Regions from separate parts of the Homo sapiens genome. Here region 1 is linked to region 2. Evidence: fine-mapped expression QTL. Tissue or cell type: cerebellar hemisphere. Region 2 holds a variant in brackets; the other region holds the start of a gene. All regions are shown on one strand. Distances are between the middles of the regions.

Region 1 (2,760 bases), 47 kb before region 2:
AGGTTTTCAAAATTTTTGTGCACCAGAATCACTTGGGTGCTTGTTAAAAACGCAGGTGATTCTGTTAAACAAAAAAAAAGCAGTAATTTCAGATGCAAGTAAATCATGGATTGATCTTTGAGAAATACACTACGTAGAGGCTGAAGAGGTGTCAATCACTACTTTTAGGAACTCCTCAATCCAGACTTCTTTGTTCCTGTTCCAAAACTATAATCATTGAAAAGAAAGAAATAACATATTTTAGAAGATACAGCCAAAGTTCCTGAGCCAGAAGCAGACATTGACAAATTAGTTGATGGGGGAAAAAAACTGTAGTGTGGCCTTAGCATTTTCTCTCCTTTCAGGTCTAGGATAAATCATTTTTTTCCTTCAGTGTCACAAAGTATAACAAATAATAATGAGTGCTGTGAAAATGGATTTGATAGTAGCAACAATATAGGTACACATTGATGAGGTGTACCTATAATGAGCTTCCTGAAGGTAAACACTCATATCAGGCTTATTTTAAAGATTTCCACAGTGACTATACTTTGGCGGATCTTAGAGAATGACTTGCATAAAACAGTCAATTCAGTGCTACTTTTGCTATTTTCATACTGTAAAGTACATGGTTTAACATGACCATTTTAAAGATGTTTCTCATGAGCTCAAATGGGGTGAGCTCTTTTTCATTTTTTGAGTTTTTGTTGTGTTCCAGGCATTGTGCTATATTCTTTAAATGCATTATCTCACTTAATCCTCCCAAAAAGAGCGATACCCATTTTAAAAAGAGGCAGAGTACTTGCCCTAGATTATACAACTAGTAAGTGGTGGTGTCTGGGCCAAAATGTAGGTCTGTTCACTCAAGCAAATTTGCTTAGCACTGGAGAGAGCCAAGGTGAATTAAGGCGTGGTCCTACGCCCTGCTGTAAATGCTGTGTTCGGAGGTGTGCACAGGCTGCAATAGGAACACAAAGGAGGCTCATTTCAGGCTCTCCGTGGTTTTTAGGATAAAATGCAAATCCTTTTGCCTAACACATTATAACCAGGTCCCCCAAACTCCTCTCCCTTTATCTAGTCCCACAGGGACCCGGTCACTCTTTCTGCCACAAAGATGCCGATGCTTGGACATCTCCAGTTTCGAGGAACTCACGTAGGAGACACGCCTTCACTTCCACCTTTGCCAAACCCCGACCCCTTCACACCGCTCCCCTGCACTCTCAATCCCTGTCCGCTGCAACACATATCCCCTCATCAGCACCTTCGGTGATTAGGCCCTCCAGGCGCGGGGGATGTGGGACTACCCGGACTGAGGACTGCGCACCGGAAGTAGTGGCGGCGCTGCGTAACGTCGAGAGGAAGTGCCTGATGCCGCGGCCTGTGATTGGGAGTTGCTGGAGTCGGTGCTTCACTCTTAAGGTTCCGATCACAGACTGCGGAGTGGGTCAGGGGCTGCGAGGGCTGCCCCAAGTCCTACCGGGTTTGCACGGGCGCGCCCGGCTCCGCCCGCAAGTGCGCCTTCCTGACTTACTGCTGGGTGCGCGGGGCTGGGGGTGCGAGTACCACCCCTGAAGTCTCTTCCTGGGCGACCTCCGGGGCCTCATTCTAGGCCTCCTTAAAGAGAAGGATCTAAATTAGGAAAAGGAAGTGCCCTTATCCACGACCAAGCTCTTCCACCTGCGGAGCTCGCTTAGTCTGCACCTCAACCGTGCGGAAAGTGACTGCCCTGTTTACTGAGGAAAAACTGGGGCTCAGAAAGGTGAAGTCATTTGCCATGGGCCATGCAGCTGGGAAGTGACAGATCTGGATTCAAAGCGAGTTCTGGCTGGCGCCAGAGTCCTTGTATTTTACAGCACTGGTTCTCAAGCTTTATGTGCATTAAGAATTCCTGGGTTGAGGGTGGCGTTAGTTAACAAATTCTGGGACTCTACAAATTGAGTAGATCTGGGATGGGGCTCTGGAATCTATTTTCAACAATTGTTCCCTGGCAAATAACATATGGCTCCCCAGTGAATGGAGCAAGAAGGTGAGCAAGTCGTATCCTCTGCGGGGACTGTAGGTAATTGTGTTACGCTTTTAGGGCCTCAATTGAGAGAACATGTCAAACGGGAGCTCCTGGGATTGGAGAATTGGTATTTGATTGTCATTAACTCTTCTGGGCAGATGGCAGCCTCTGCGTCTCTCCACCTATTAAATGAAATGAATTACATGCTTATCATCTGGGGGAACTTGTTAAACACACAGATTCCTGGGCCTGGCTCAGCTCTACTGAATCAGAAGAGGTGGGAGATGGGACCTGGGAATCTATAGTCTAAGCAAGCTATTAATATAAAACGAGCTTTTACCTTTGAGAACTTGAGGTGTGAAGCTTTCTTAGGTAGAAGCATAAAGAAATAGATTACAGATGTGGAACATGTGGCTTGAATTTCCTTGTTGTTTTGGTAGCTGTACGTGCTTCTGCATTTGCTGTAGGCTAAGCTTTTACTGGTACAACTGTCAAATTAGTATTATTAGCCATTATGAGGTGGATTTATCCGTTAGCTGGAGACAGGAGTTTAATATAAGTTGAATGTTAATCTGTCTGTTGTTGATTTCCTGAGTGGCTTTGGGTGCATCATTGAACTTTACCGTCCACATACATACCTGCATTGTGTCAAATCTTACACTGCTTGTTATAAAGACAAATACCTGTATCCATCCTAAATCAGATTTTCTGAAGGTGGGCCATAGGTATTTTGAACAAACTTCCAGGGAAGTTTGATGCAGCCAGTGATAATGGAA
Region 2 (2,760 bases):
CTCCCCGGGCTCAGGTGATCCTCCAACCTCAGCCTCCTGAGTAGCTGGGACTACAGGTGCACCCCACCACACCTGGCTAATTTCAGAATTTGTTGTAGACGGTCTTGCCATGTAGCCCAGCCTGGTCTGGAACTCCTGGGCTCAAGCGATCCGCCCCCCATCGGCCTCCCAGAGTGCTGGGACTACAGGCGTGAGCCACTGAGCCCGGCCAGCTTTTCACAATTTGCAGTATATATATTTTTTCTACACATTTATGTGCTTTTTAAAAGAAAAAATTACCATCTTACTGAACTAATAGTTTTGGGGCCTTTTTCTACTTAGGTACATTGGTGCCTGCCATTAATTCTTGTTCTATGACATCATCTTGAGTGGCTGCATAGTGTTATATACAGTTGTATTGTTATTTAACCAGTTCCTTTGTGTTGGATTTAGATGGTGGTTGGTGTTGATGCTGTTTTTGATATTAGTAACCCTTTTGTTGGTTTTGGAAATCACGAGAATGGAGGGAGGGAGGTAGGGAGCCCATTCGGGCTTTGACTTCATTCAGACTTCAATTCAAATAATAAAAAGAGCAGGTAACACTTTTGAAAAGCTGCAATATGTACTAGGCACTGCATTCATTGCTTTACATATAATCAGTGCCTGATTTATGAATCCTCACAGCAGCCCATAGACTAGGCACTATTTTTATCTCCATTTTACAGTTAAACGGAGGCACAGCTCTTCCACTGGTGTGGCTGGGTGCAGTCCTGTAGCTAAACCTTTGAGTACATCTCTGATTGTTTCTTAGAATAAATTCCTAAAAGTGGGGTCGCTGGCCCAGATCCGGAAGGCTATGCATATTTTAAGGCTTTGAATACATAATGGAAATGGCTTTCCAGAAAGAGTACACCAATTTATCCACCTGCCAGTGGTGTTTGAGCAGATCTGAGAAACTCCTGCCCTGCTTGAGCACTGACTGTGTGCTGGGCCCTATGCTTAGTCTTTTATACCATTTCCCTCCTCAGAGAAGAAGCTGTCCTGTGCCTGGCACAGAGTAAGCAAGAACTCAGGACATCTCAGCCAGTATGGGTGGTGGTATTATACTGTGTGTAATTTGTTGAGAAAACAAGACACACACTTG[G/A]AAAACATCAATAATAAGGTGAAAGTGGAACAAGGGGTCCTGATGATGAGTCTTAGAGCTGGCAGAATATGAGGTGGTGGCCAGGGAAGTCTGCCTGTTGGAGGAGGCACTTGGAGAATGGGCAGGAGCACCCTGTTAAGTGACAGCTGAAAGGCTGATGAGCAGGGAGGGACCCCTTGGTAGCTTATGTTGAGCTGGAGGGGAGACGGTGGGGGAGGAAGATGGGCCCACATCAGGCGTAGGAGCTGGCTTGGGCAGAGGTGAGAAGACCTGGGAGAGAGACTGCAGGAGTCCAAGTTTGAGGCTGCACATGTGGCCTGGGGGACACCTCTAGGAATGGTGAAAAGAAAAGATGTCGGATTTTCTAGTGCTGGTAACACCCCTTCTTCCCATGAGTGCTGAAACAACAGAAAAACAGACACAGGACTCAGCTACGAGGTCAGCATATCAAGGTTATTACTGATAAGGCCGGGAGACCTTGGCTTACCTCCATGACCACAGTCAGACTTCTTGATATGCCTTCACCCTATCAAGGCCTCAGGGTACCCCATCCGAGGAAACAGTCTGTGCTGCAGGCCCGGTCTCTGCCAGCCGCCAGGAGGATCGCTGCCTCCCTTGGTGAGCCTGCGAGTGGGGAGCGGAGGAGGTGGGCCTCCAGGTGTGCTTCTCAAAGGTGGATGCTGGCCCTTCCCCATGGAGGACGCAGGAGCTGGGCAGCGGGCACTCTCTGTAGACAAGCAGCTCAGAGTGGCCAGGAAAGGGCCAGATTCCCTATGCCCCCAGCTCAGCTCCTTCTCCCAAGCTGCTTATAAGTCATTCCTCCGCTCTCGGGAAAGAGAGTTAGGGAGGCTGGGAAAAGGATGGAAGCTGCCTTTCCGATATTCTTCCCTCTTGGGAATGGAGCGTTCCTCTCCTCATTGCAACACAAGGTAGGAGAGGCAGCCACTGCCCCCATGCTGGCTGTTGCTCATCCCAGCCCAATCCAAGATGCTTCAGAGGAAAGACTGCCAGCAACCAGCCAGGCAGGATGGTGCTGTGGTGGCAATTTTAGTCCAGTAGACCTGGTTCTAGTTCCAGCTCCTCCACTGACTGCTACATGGCCTTTGGCAAATTCTTAGCCTGAGTTTCCCCATCTTCTATAAAACAGAGTTGTTCAATTGAGAGAGACAAAATGTATCCGTCTCAGTACCGGCAGCTATTCTTATGAAATAGTGTGTGAATGCGAAGGAAAGAGCTTGTGTGGCCTTGATTTTTGTTGTTGTTTTTTGCTTTTGTTTTGAGACAGGGTCTTCCTTTGTTACCCAGGCTGGAGTCATTGGCACAGTCATGGCTCACTGCAGCCTTAATCTCCTAAGCTCAAATGATCCTCCTACCTCAGCCTCCTAAGTAGCTGGGACTATAGGCACATGCCATCATGCGCAGCTAATTTTTAACATTTATTTATTTATTTATTTTACTTTATTTTGAGATGGAGTTTCACTCTTTTGCCCAGACTGGAGTGAAGTGGCACGATCTTGGCCCACTGTAAACTCTGCCCCTGGGTTCAAGCAATTCTCCTCCCTCAGCGTCTTGAGTAGCTGGGATTACAGGCACCTGCCACCACGCCCGGCTCATTTTTGTATTTTTAGTAGAGATGG

Which allele goes with the higher level. Alleles are on the strand shown, and positions count from the first base shown. SD is a standard deviation of normalised expression in the study named.
In carriers of allele A in region 2, the expression in cerebellar hemisphere of the gene that starts at base 1,390 in region 1 tends to be lower than with G alone (small effect, 0.32 SD a copy in GTEx).

Evidence for each region. PIP is the estimated chance that this variant, and not a neighbour inherited with it, causes the effect.
Region 1: it holds the start of ALKBH3, and the variant in region 2 is fine-mapped to the expression of ALKBH3 in cerebellar hemisphere (GTEx, PIP above 0.99).

Annotation. Positions count from the first base shown.
Region 1 is chr11:43,879,442-43,882,201 of GRCh38, forward strand. It overlaps ALKBH3 (alkB homolog 3, alpha-ketoglutarate dependent dioxygenase), which reads left to right and starts at 1,390. Exons shown (of 10, transcript NM_139178.4): 1 at 1,390-1,738. LOC105376644 (a long non-coding RNA gene) reads right to left here and starts at 1,296. Exons shown (of 3, transcript XR_001748200.2): 1 at 1,241-1,296. RefSeq lists an enhancer at 1,176-1,375.
Region 2 is chr11:43,926,838-43,929,597 of GRCh38, forward strand. It overlaps LOC124902663 (a long non-coding RNA gene), which reads right to left. Exons shown (of 3, transcript XR_007062657.1): 2 at 1,611-2,760; 3 at 214-1,521. It also overlaps a transcript of ACCSL not described here. Among named protein-coding and RNA genes, the nearest start is that of ALKBH3-AS1, 7.3 kb to the left of the region's middle. RefSeq lists an enhancer at 1,248-1,749. The variant G/A (reference allele first, on the strand shown) is at 1,124.